2 linked regions of the Homo sapiens genome follow. The protein of the gene in region 1 purifies or fractionates together with the protein of each later gene. This does not show direct contact. Each region holds a gene or a part of one and is shown in the gene's direction. Other genes may lie near its edges.

Evidence for each region. Proteins that work in one complex are often made in the same cells at the same time.
Region 2: the proteins of BHMT2 (region 1) and TBCE purify together in Homo sapiens (affinity purification with mass spectrometry; 3 studies listed by BioGRID and IntAct, with this or other methods). This does not show direct contact.

The regions. Positions count from the first base shown.
Region 1 is NC_000005.10:79,079,751-79,086,787, forward strand, and holds part of BHMT2 (S-methylmethionine--homocysteine S-methyltransferase BHMT2), read left to right. Parts: intron 1-936; coding exon 937-1,128; intron 1,129-3,058; coding exon 3,059-3,206; intron 3,207-3,441; coding exon 3,442-3,624; intron 3,625-3,877; coding exon 3,878-4,106; intron 4,107-7,037.
Region 2 is NC_000001.11:235,447,398-235,452,951, forward strand, and holds the end of TBCE (tubulin-specific chaperone E), read left to right. Parts: exon of another isoform or gene 1-951; coding exon 952-1,043; exon of another isoform or gene 1,044-1,272; coding exon 1,273-1,365; 3' UTR 1,366-2,808; coding exon of another isoform or gene 2,809-2,943; 3' UTR 2,944-5,046; downstream 5,047-5,554. Other genes in the region: B3GALNT2 (UDP-GalNAc:beta-1,3-N-acetylgalactosaminyltransferase 2), read right to left, coding at 2,843-2,943. UniProt on the Homo sapiens protein: Tubulin-folding protein; involved in the second step of the tubulin folding pathway and in the regulation of tubulin heterodimer dissociation.

The DNA.
Region 1 (7,037 bases):
CTGGGTGTGGTGGCAGGCGCCAGTAATCCCAGCTACGCAGGAGGTTGAGGCATGAGAATGGCTTCAACCTGGGAGATAGCATTGAGCCGAGATCACACCACTGCACTCCAGCCTGGGTGACAGAGCAAGACCCCATGTCAGCAAAAAAAAAGAAGTTAATATATACTAAATGAATTAGCTTTCTCTTCCCATTTAGGTAGAGGAGGGGTCAGGACTAGGGGTAAAATAAACCATTGGAAGGGCATGGCTGTCTTCTTGTGCTATTTTTTAGAGAGAAAGCACTTCATAGATGCTCTTTTCACCTTCTCATTTCACACTTTTCTCTTCTGGAGACAGGGAGGCCCTAAAAAACAATACTGGAGTAGAAATGAGAAAAAACGGGTTTGATATCCAGCATTGCCACCTATTGGCTGTGTGGCTTTGTGTAAGACACCTACCTGCATTGAGCATTGGTTTTCTCTCTGTAAAATGGAGACAACAGTAGTGCTTAAATTCATAGACCTGTTGAGAAGAGTAAGTAAGACCAAGGATGTGAAAGTATTGTGAAATATTCTGCAAATGTAAAATGTTAATACGTGTAAATGTTAATGCCCATTAATTCATTCAACCAACCAACATGTACTGAGTATCTGTTACAGTCCATTCTCTATGTTAGACTCAAAGTTGATACAAAGGCATAGACCCTATCTGGAGGTGCAAGGTCAAGTATGGGAGGCAAACAAATAGTTATTAAAATCCAATGTGGTAAGTACAATAATGGAAATATAAGGTCATGGTAACAGAGGAGATTGTACCCAACTCTGCTGGTCTTTTCTGCTTGCATTGAAGAGAGTGGCTTATACTCATCTTACTTGTTTATTGTCCCTTTAGTTATCTTTTATATTTTACCTTCAAACTGCTAGGCTCACTATCTGAACTCTTGCTCTCTAACCTCAGTGGGAAGATGTAAATGCTGCTGCCTGTGACCTCGCCAGGGAAGTGGCTGGCAAAGGTGATGCTTTGGTAGCAGGGGGGATCTGCCAGACATCAATATACAAATACCAGAAGGATGAAGCTAGAATTAAAAAACTTTTTCGACAACAGCTAGAAGTTTTTGCCTGGAAAAATGTGGACTTCTTGATTGCAGAGGTGAGGCTAGTATTGGAGGAAAAGGATTGAACCTATTTTGCAAGCATAACTGCAGAGTCTTCACATTTCATGAGGGTATTGGACAACATTCTGCCCTCATTTCTTCCATGTGGATGGTCAAAGGTTTATTTAAATGCATGGTAGTCAAGGCCAACATTCCCTCATTGGTATGCTAGGTTCTCTTAGAGCCAAAGGACAGACCCAAGAGAGGCCTGACCATAGCCTTTTATCTTCTAAGGTCTGGGTGGCTGCAGAAGCTGACTTGGGGGACTCTACAACCTATAAGGAAGCATAGGGCACAGTGCCTCCGGGAGCACCCTCTCCAGAGGGAGAATCCACACAGGAGGGCACTGCATGTGTGGGCTGGGGACTGAGAGAGCAAGGCCTGGAAGGTGGTGGCTATCCAGGCTCGTCTAGGCCCCACCAATAATGCTCAGCACCCAGTAGTTTCCATAGCCTTCTCCATCCATGTCTTGCTCTTCTTGCCTCTCTGCTTTCACTCAAGCTATGACATGTGAATTACATTTTGAAGAAAGAATCAGTAAGAATTGGTCATTGATTGGACATGAAGGCCCAGAACATTCTCTTTCCTCCACTTCCAAAACGAAAGTCCTCATTCCCCATTTCCCAACATAACTGCTACTGCCTGGGGTCATGCCTTCAACCCACAACTTTACTCCAAACAAGAGAATATCCCCTGGCTTGGCGCGGTAGCTCACACCTGTAATCCCAGCACTTTGGGAGGCCAAGGCAGGTGGATGGCATGAGGTCAGGAATTTGAGACTACCCTGGTGAACAAGGTGAAAGCCCATCTCTACTAAAAATACAAAAATTAGCTGGGCATGTTGGTGGGAGCCTGTAGTCCCAACTACTCTGGAGGCTGAGGCAGGAGAATGGCTTGAACCTGGGAGGCGGAGGTTGCAGTGAGCCAAGATAGGGCACCACTGCACTCCAGCCTGGGCGACAGAGTGATACTCTGTCTCAAAAGAGAGAGAGAGAGAATAGCCGCCACCATTATTCCCCCTAGTGACCCCACTGAACTCTACTGAAAACCTTGCCTCATCCTCCTGCCCACGCCTGGCCAACCCCACTGGGAACAGTCATCTGCAGGGACAAGCACAAATTCCACCCTCTGTGCTTTCCAGATGGATGATGACACCACTCTGTTTGTTTAAGAACCCGTCTTTTGATTCTCTCATAATTCCTCACACTGCTTCTGCAGAATTTGTTTCTAACTCAAGAGGGAAGAAACAGGAAGATTTCTGGCTTTTCTTTAGTTGCCTTAAGGTCAGCTTTTCAGCTGTGGCACTGAAGGGGCTTCCTGGGAAGCACCCAAGAAAATGACATGGGTTTACCAGACAAGATGTCCTGTCCACCACTGGCAAAGACAGGGAGTAGCTATTTCTCCTATGCTGTGCCTCAATCTTCTCACCCGGGGAAATGGTGCTTCCCTTCCTACTTTATGGAGCACTTATGAATATCTAACTAGAAGTGAATATAAAAGCTCTTTGAACTATAACACATGATAAGCTACTCATTGTTTCAGAGATTACCCCAGTTTTATAAGAGATGAATCTAAAATTTATTAGCAAAACTTTTCCTCCTTCAAAATTACAAAATTATGATTTTAAATACTCAATTACTTTGAAAACCTCTGGGTGTGTTTTCTTCTTTTTTACTAATAGGCATCATCTCACTGAATCAATGAACCCTGAATGAAAAACTATATGTTATTGTTATAGGAATGAAAATGTTTACTCAGAAAGGTATTCTTTAGTCAGTCTGATAGACACACATTCCTTAGCAAGTTTTATTATGCATATGTTTATATTCTATTTGGTAATTTTTATAACTGTTTTGCTATATTTACCTTTACCATTCAAAATCTGCTTTATGTTTGGACCAGTAGAAAAAGTGACATTTCTCTTAGTATTTTGAGCACGTTGAAGAAGCTGTGTGGGCTGTGGAAGTCTTAAAAGAATCAGATAGACCCGTGGCAGTTACCATGTGCATAGGCCCAGAGGGAGACATGCATGATATAACCCCCGGAGAATGTGCTGTGAGGCTGGTGAAGGCAGGTAATTTGGACCCATACCGTGATACACAGCTCAGTTGTTGCTTACGAAATTTAACAAAGTGTGCTTGATATTGTGAGAGCAGTTTGGAAATAGAAGAATGAACTCCAATCAGTTTTCTTATCTGTAAATTGTGGGAGGTGGAGGGGAATGGCTAACCTCTAAGGTACCTTCCAACTATTAAAAAAAAAGAATAAACAAATAAATAATAAAATGTAAGTGTTATTTCTTTGCACAGGGGCTTCCATCGTTGGCGTGAACTGCCGCTTTGGGCCCGACACCAGCTTGAAGACGATGGAGCTCATGAAGGAGGGTCTTGAGTGGGCAGGGCTGAAAGCGCACCTCATGGTGCAGCCTCTGGGGTTCCACGCGCCTGACTGTGGCAAAGAGGGGTTTGTGGATCTCCCAGAATATCCCTTTGGTAAGCTCAGGTGCATAGTAGAGGTCCTTGTATTTCTCGTGACAAAATCCAAATGGCTATAATAAATTGTGGCCCAGTTTTACAATAAGAGACTGCATATGACAAAACATTCAGAGTTAACCAAAAATGAGCTATCAGAAGAATGCATCATCTAAAGTTTATAGTTTTTTTAATTGGAAAAACTGCTCATTAGAGCATCCATCATTTGAAAATGAGAACAGTAACAGAAATGCTGTTAACTATTGTGATTCAGGACTGGAGTCCAGAGTTGCCACCAGATGGGATATTCAAAAATACGCCAGAGAGGCCTACAACCTGGGGGTCAGGTACATTGGCGGGTGCTGTGGATTTGAGCCCTACCACATCAGGGCAATTGCAGAGGAGCTGGCCCCAGAAAGGGGCTTTTTGCCACCAGCTTCAGAAAAACACGGCAGCTGGGGAAGTGGTTTGGACATGCACACCAAACCCTGGATTAGAGCAAGGTAAGCATTTTTAAATTAACATTCTTATTATTTTCCTTTAATCTCATTTTATTTATTGTTGTAAATGTCATGCATGCACATGACAAAAAGTATAGAAATGTATAAAGTGAAAAGTAAAAATTATCCCCTTCCTGATACCAGCTCCATTCCCAAAATTGTCTTTAGTCCATTTGGGCTGTTAGAACAATACCATAAACTGGGTGGCTTATACACAACAGAAATTTCTTTCTCAGTTCTGGAGACTGCAAAGTCCAAGATCAAGGTGTCAGCAGATTCAATTTCTGGTGAAGGCCTTAGAGATGATAAAGGCCATCTATAAGGAAGCAGGCATTCCTTATAGATGATACCTTCTTGCTGTGTCCTCACATGGTAGATGGGGCACCACAGCTCCCTGGGGCCTCTTGTCTTTTTTGTTTGTTTGTTTGTTTGTTTGTTTCTGAGATGGAGTCTGGCTCTGTTGTCCAGGCTGCAGTGCAATGACACAATCTCGGTTCACTGCAACCTCTGCCCCCCAGGTTCAAGTAATTCTGCCTCTGCCTCCCGAGTAGCTGGGATTACAGGCGCCCACCACCACATCCGGCTAATTTTTGTATTTTTAGTAGAGACGGGGTTTCACTATGTTACCCAGGCTGGTCTCGAACTCCTGACCTCGTAATCCGCCTGCCTTGGCCTCCCAAAGTTAGAGTGGGGCCTCTTTTCTAAGGGCACTAGTCCCATTCATCAGGGATGCATCCTCATGACCCAATCACCTCCCAGTGGCTCCACCCCCTAATATCATCACACTGGTGACTAGGTTTCAACATGTGCATTGTGGGGACACAGACAATCAGACCATGGCACAGAGGAAACCTGTTTGTCATTTGTGTTTTGAAATCTTGTACCTCTATTTCTTTTGTCATCAGTTTTAAGTGGTAACTATTGATAACCCTTTATGAAAGCTGAGGGATTTAAATCACATAGGCTTCCCCTTTTCCCCGTTCTCCTTTTTCCAGTTTTGATTCGTTACACTTTTATTTCTTCTGTTGGATATCTTTTTAAGTTAAAATTATATATTTAACCACCTGTTTCTTAGTTCATCAATATAAGGCAGGAATCTCTTGACTCCACTCTCTGTAAAATAAGAATAGATTCCCCTCTGCTTCTTTCCACCTTCCCTCTCTCATCTACCCCTTGGTGTCTTTAAGTTTTACCATACTTTACTATCATCAAGGTTTATAACCATTTTGTTCTATTCTATAGTTATAATTGTCTTTCAAGCTTTCTCTGTAGGTTGATCCTAAAAATATAAAATCAGTGAATAACATTTACAATATTATTATAATTGTTATATTAAACAAGCAGGACTCATGAGACATAATTAGAATTCACTTTTATTTTTGTCTCCCTCTATCCCTTTAAACCTACTCAATGAATTCCTTCGTTTGTTCCTACTTGAAAATACTGACCAGCTCTAGAACTTCTCTGGGTGCTCTTAGGCAATGGAAAGTTCCATAATCACTTTATTTCACAGATAGTCTCAGTTCAGTAATTAAAAGTGTTTAGGACTGGGCACAGTGGCTCACGCCTGTAATCCCAGCACTTTGGGAGGCCGAGGCTGGTGGATCACCTGAGGTCAGCAGTTCAAGACCAGCCTGGCCAACATGGCAAAACTTCATCTCTACTAAAAATACAAAAGTTAGCCTGGCGTGGTGGCGGGAGCCTATAATCCCAACTACTCGGGAGGCTGAGGCAGGAGAATCGCTTGAATTCAGTGGGGTGGAGGTTGCAGTGAGCCAAGATTGTGCCACTTAACTCTAGCCTGGGCAATAGAGCGAAACTCCATTTCAAAATGAACAAACAAAAAAACCCCAAAAATAAAAAATAAATAAAAGTGTTCAGGTTCATGTCAAATCAAAACTCAGAGCATGTTTGAAACTTGAAGCTTCTCCCTTTGTCCAGCAACAGCCTTCCACAGACAGGAAACCAGGAGAGGCCAGCGCGCTGCTTCTCTTTCTCTGTTATGCTCCCAAACTTCCCTTCCCATCTTGCTACCATGGTTTCTGGCCTCCTCAGATTCAAAGTAAGAAGAAAGAGGATGGATAAAGGAGTAAGACTGTTGTTGCTTGCCTGGCACCCTGATAGGAAGCCGGCATCCTCTGACCCTGGCAGATCTTTGTGAGCACGCTCATGGGTCTTCAGAGGCTCCCACTGGAAACTTTTGTCTGTACTTCTCATGCCACAGGCATTTTTCTGACTGTGACTTCTGCCTCAGACAGTGGCTTTTTCAACCAGGTCACTCCAGATATACTCTGATTTGGGGGTCCTGTTGTCCTCCCCGGTAATTCTCTTGGGCCAGATTTTAGATAGTTCAGGCTGGCTCTCTCACTCTCATTAGGCTCAAAACAGCTTTCACCCTTTCTGCAGACAAGCCATGAGAGTGTGGTCTGACCCCAATTTAACAGCACCCCTTTTGCCCACAAGCAAAGTAGCTGGCCCATTGTTCTCTTGTGGTCCAGATTTTCCAGGGGACAGTCAAATGAGTCATCTGGCTGGTTCGTGGCCACCTCCTTTTAACTTCTGTGCAGTGTCTGTCTTGCAACTCCCCTTGATACCTAAAATCCATCATGCCTTGGTGTTTCCAGTCAAACTTCCAATCTAATACTCTGTTGCAGGAATAATAGAAAATTGTTGCATTTAGAAAAACGTTCACTGCAGAACAAAGTAGTATGCATGGGACCATGGATAAAGAGAAATAATCCTATTTACAAAACTTGAGCTACTTGTTGGAGAATGTTCCAAGCATCAAGGTCAAATGAATTTTCTTCTCTTGCATTCCCGTGGATATATTGTCCAAATCCATGCCATATTTCAATTTGCTTCATACTTGGTCTGACTTTCTTTGTATAGCCTTTGGTTTTCTAGGGATTTCTGATTAACTTCCTTTTCCATTGT
Region 2 (5,554 bases), on another chromosome or scaffold:
ACTATTTACCACAACCCGTCTTTGGAAAGAAGTTCATAGTGTATTCTGAACAAACCAAAGCATTTACTCGGAAGTTACATTCCCATGCCTGGCAGTCACTTGTGTATGTTTAATACAGTTACACATGATGTAATTACAGAATGGCGGCGCTGGAAGGGACCTTGTAGATCATTTAGTTGGCACCCTAATTTTACAGAGGGGGAACTAAGGCCAGAGTTGAGAGATGTCCTCAGGATACCTGAGTCCCATTCCAGTGTTCGTTCAGTAATTCATAAGGAAGTCATCATAAAGGTTTAAAAAGAAAACGTTAATGACTCGCTCCCTTTATTCTTCTGTGCTGAGAGTATCATTCTGGTTTATTCAGATTAAGAAAGAAATACACTACTGAAATGGTATGAAACTCACTGTCAAAGGGCACTTAGGTCCGTTGGCTCCGTTTCCCACAGTTCCCCAAATGAACAGGTGGTACAAGACTCAGGCTTTCCCCTAATTACTTACTTGGGTAAAGTGACTTGGGTAAAATGAAAGATACAGCCAGGCGCTGGGCTCATGCTTGTAATCCCAGCACTTTGGGGGGCCAGGGCGGGCGGATCACGAGGTCAGGAGTTCAAGACCAGCCTGGCCAACATGGTGAAACCCCGTCTCTACTAAAAATACAAAAGTTAGCTGGGTGTGGTGATGGGCACCAGCTACTCAGGAGGCTGAGGCAGGAGAATTGTTTGAACCCGGGAAGCGGAGGTTGCAGTGAGCCGAGATTACACCATTGCACTCCAGCCTGGGCGACAGAGCAAGACTTACTTAAGTAAGTAAGTAAGTCAGTCTCAAAAAAAAAAAAAAAAAAAAGACAGATACAGCTATCATTGCAATGATACTGTGGTCTCATCACATGAGCTAGTTTTACAGGTAACTGTCATTTGAGAGAACGAATGGACTTTTCTTGTCTTTTGATAGGCTCCATGACAATTCAAAAGGTGAAGGGATTGCTGTCACGTCTTCTCAAAGTTCCTGTGTCAGACCTTCTGTTGTCCTATGAAAGTCCCAAAGTAAGTTGCCCAGCAAAATACAAAGTCAAAGTCAAGCTTAGTCCTCGTATTATGACATTAAACTGTCTCTAGATAGCAACAGTTTGATTCTAAATGGAGACCATGGGTCTGTTTGTTTGATTTTAAGGGTAAGCTACTGCCTGGGGACGGGGTGGGGGAAGAGTATGTGTAGCATGCTTTATCGGATCTGTCTTAATCACATCCTTCCCCACCTTCGTTCTAATTTTAGAAGCCGGGCAGAGAAATCGAGCTGGAAAATGACCTAAAGTCATTACAGTTTTATTCTGTGGAAAATGGAGATTGTCTATTAGTGCGATGGTGACAACCAACTAATAAAATTTAAAGACCACACTGCTTATCGTGTCTGGGGTTCACCGGAAATAAATGATTCACTGGAACAATTCTACTGTCAAAACAAAGGGGGTTTACAACTTGTCCTAAGTATAACAAGGGATGTATTTTTTGTTGGGAAGTGACCATTTCTAGGCTTATACATAATAGCAATAATAAAGGCTTTGAACCTACTAATGATTTTCTGATCTTATTTCATATTTATTTTTACAGCTCATCACTGCATTTCATGATAAGATTTAAATATTAAATAGAAAGAAACTAGCTAGCCTAATAAAATCTGAACACAGTTAATATCTGTCATAAGACTAGTTTTAATGGAATTCTCTATTGAAACTACTATTTTAAAGGGTTACTAGAAATGATTTGGTTGGTCATTTTGGGAAATGTCCCTTAAACTTGGGGAGACATCCTCTACTATGTATAACAATATGCTATTATCTGTCTTCTCAGTTGCACTATTTCTAAGAGTACTTAAATTAATCACATGCTTTTCCCTACAATTATACCTAAGCTGAGTATATCTTCTTCTGTGATAACCAGCTTTGATTGAAATGTACTCATATTAGGTAAACATTAGGCAATGATAGGAGGAAAGCAAAACTAATTCTTTCAAAATGTCAACAAAATTTAGAAATATCCTTCCCGATGGCACTAAAACCCTGAGAGGTATTTGCTTTTATTCATACTCACACAACTTTAGCATTTAAAAACTATGAGTACTAAACTGTGACCTTCAGGATTTATGTTAGATGGCAGAAAGAAAATTTGGGTATTAGTCTACCATATAAATGAACTTCTTTAAAACCAAGGTTCAGAACTGAGAATCATATTGGTTCCTCTTCAAGTTAGTTCAAGTTGCCCACTTCAGAGATCCACAAAATCTGACATTATTTCCAGAAACCCCAAACTTTGGTATAAGTGACCACTGCTCAAATATGTGATCACATGATCACACAGCATTCCTGTGAGTTCCTTTTTGTCTGATAATTATCCTAATTAGCTCTACAGAGCTATCCTGCAATCCAGGTTGAAATTCAAACTCTCAGTTACTACTACAGATTTCTGAACTAGGCCAAGTTTTAACCAAAAACTATAGGTAATGGTGAATTACTAATTAGCCACAATGCATCAGGATTTAGAAATATTTTTTCTTTTATAAAATAACTTGGTATTTTTCTGATAATCTTCCAATAGATAAATAAAAACTTTTCTTATGCTACAGTACAAGTTGATTTTTAAGGAAATTTGTGCAAACATTAAGAAACACCGCATTGGTTCTGGGTGAAAGTGCCAGTCTGGAACTCTCTTGAAAGACCATACAGTCTACTGCTAAACCCTGGGACTCCTCAGACTTGCACTCAGATTATCGTTTGCCTGCCCTGATTTTAGACTCTGCTAATTCAAGTCCCTGTTATCTTGCTTGACATCGACAAGGATCACCGCACCGTTCCTTCAGTTTCCACAGTTCCGTCAGTTCCCACGGAGAATACTGAGGAGAAGACAGCATTCCTGTCTCACAGGTCTTCTCACACAGCCACAGACTGTCCTGTTGAGAAACAACCAAAGCCGATCTGAGAGTGGTGAAACTGTTTTAAGAGCATCAGAAAGTATGCACGTAGACAGCTTTTATGTATTCTAATGATGCTGAAATTATTTCAAGGATAACTCCGTGTGTGGAACAACTGGTGAGGTTTGGGGGTGGCACCTCCTGATTTGGGAAAGCACCAGGTCCCACAGTCCTGTGGCTGTGGAATACAGAAACAAGGCGGTGTGTGGATGAAGAGTTAGTCAACAAATGCCATTCCGTAATGAACGATTTTAGAAACCACAAGTGAGTTTCATGTTTGCTAGTAAAGGTGTGTCTATGGCAGTATTAGTAACAGCTATTATTCTGATGGAATGCTTACAATATTGCAGGGACTGTACCAAGTGCTTTGTAAATATCTCACTTAAATCTCACAGTAATGCTGTGAGGTAGGAACTATTTCCCTCTTAACAATTGAGGAACAAACGAAGAGTTAAAAAACTTGTTCCAGGTCACAGGGCTGGTAAATGAAGAGGAGGGATTAAAGACTCCCAAGCTCAAGTTCTTAACCACTAGACTATTTCCTAGCTACGTGAATTGGTTTCTATTTCCAGCAATGTAGCAGAACACAGAGAGAAACTCATTCAATGTTTTGACAACACAAAAATGTTGGATAAAATTAAAAACCTTTATAAAGCATGGCTCAACTCCGTGATCAAAGAAGAAACAGGGTAGGAGAAAGCACTGAGTCAGCCTGTGCCTTGAAGGCAGCTGCTGATCCTTGGGTTTGGAAGGCCAAGCCCAGGGTCAGGAGACTAATGGGAGACTGACACAGAGCTAGGATCTCTGAGGGGCCACAGCCTCAGGGGTGATAAAACAAAACACACTCAGCTTGTCTGTCTCAGTCTTGCCCCTCAGTGGGATGGAAAGGAGTCTCTCTCCCCTCAGTGCCTACCCACAGCTTGCACTTAGGTAGGTCTGGGGCTGGTAGTCAGTCTGTGTAAGCCCAACAGTTCCAAGCCAAAAATCTGAAGTATTCATAGATGGTAGTATTCCTAGATGCATGGCAGAAAAAAATGTAAATATGTAAATCCTCTCTGTAGGAATGCATTTTAAATAGAGGACTCAGTTTCCAAAGACATGAGATGGTCACAAAAAAAAAAAAAAAAAAAAGACCGCATCAGAAAACAAGCGCCATGAACAACAGTTGTAGAAACAACAAACTGCAAAATCAGACCCAGCAAAGACTACAGATCCCAGAATTACCAGATACAAAAAAGAATTATATTCAAAGATGAGACAAAGTACAGCAAAGGAATCAGACTATCAAAGTGGACCATGTAGATGTGGGTTGATTTCTTGTCCTGGACTGAGAGCTGCTCTGGGACCCCAGCTCTATGCAGGGCTTCTAACTGACAGACACTGCATGTGCCTTCTGTCCCCTGCACCTTCGATGGCCAAAGTGGAAGCTGCAAGAATCCAGAACAGAAATCTCTGAAGCTAAAGCCAGCTTTGTGCTTGATTTCTTCCCAGGGCTCTAGTTTCCATTTTGGTCTCTGCAGATTCATTTTTTTTTCTGGTTCAGCAATACTGTGTTTTAAATGATGTCTTATATTTCATGCAGTGTCTTATTTTTATCGGTCAGAAGGGTTGAAGGATCCTTAGACTGCCACACTCAATCAGTGGATTCTGTCGTTCAGTTTTTTTTTTTGAGACGGAGTCTCGCTCTGTCGCCCAGGCTGGAGTACAGTGGTGTGATCTTGGCTCACTGCAAGCTCTGCCCCCCGGGTTCATGCCATTCTCCTGCCTCAGCCTTCTGAGTAGCTGGGACCACAGGCGCCCGCCACTATGCCTGGCTAATTTTTTTTGTATTTTTAGTAGAGATGGGGTTTCACCGTGTTAGCCAGGATGGTCTCCATCTCCTGACCTCATGATCTGCCCGCCTCGGCCTTCTGTTGTTAAGTTTTAAAGCTGCAAATAATTTCTGATCAAATCTATGGAAACTGAGTTTTTTTGTAGGCAGGGGAACGTTGATTTATAACCTTTTGCTTTAAACTCAGAAAAATACTGTATGAGAAATAACCTAGTGGATTATTGTGAATTAAAGCAACAGCATAACTATTATGGTAGAAGATCCTCATTCTTTCTGCCCATGGTGTGATAAACATTACAGGTTGAGCATTCCAAATCTGAAAATTTGAAATCCAAAATGCTCCAAAATCCAAAACTTTTTTTTTTTTTTTGAGACAGGGTCTCTCTCACTCTGTTGCCCAGGTGGGAGTGCAGTGGTGCATTCACAGCTCCCTGCACCCTCGACCTCCCAGGCTCAAGTTGATCCTCCTACCTTAGCCTCCTGAGTAGCTGGGACCACAGGCAGGCGCTGCCATGCCCAGCTAATTTTTTTGTAGTTTTTGTAGAGACGGGGGGTTTCACCATGTTGCCCAGGCTGGTCTTGAACTCCTGGGCTCAAGTGATACACCCACCTTGGCCTCCCAAAGTGTTGGGATTACAGGCATGTGCCACTATGCCCAGCCCAAAACTTTTTGAGAGCCAACATGACACTCAAAGGAAATGCTCACTGAAGCATTTCAGATTTTCAGATTTGGAATGTGCAACTTCTAAGTATAATGCA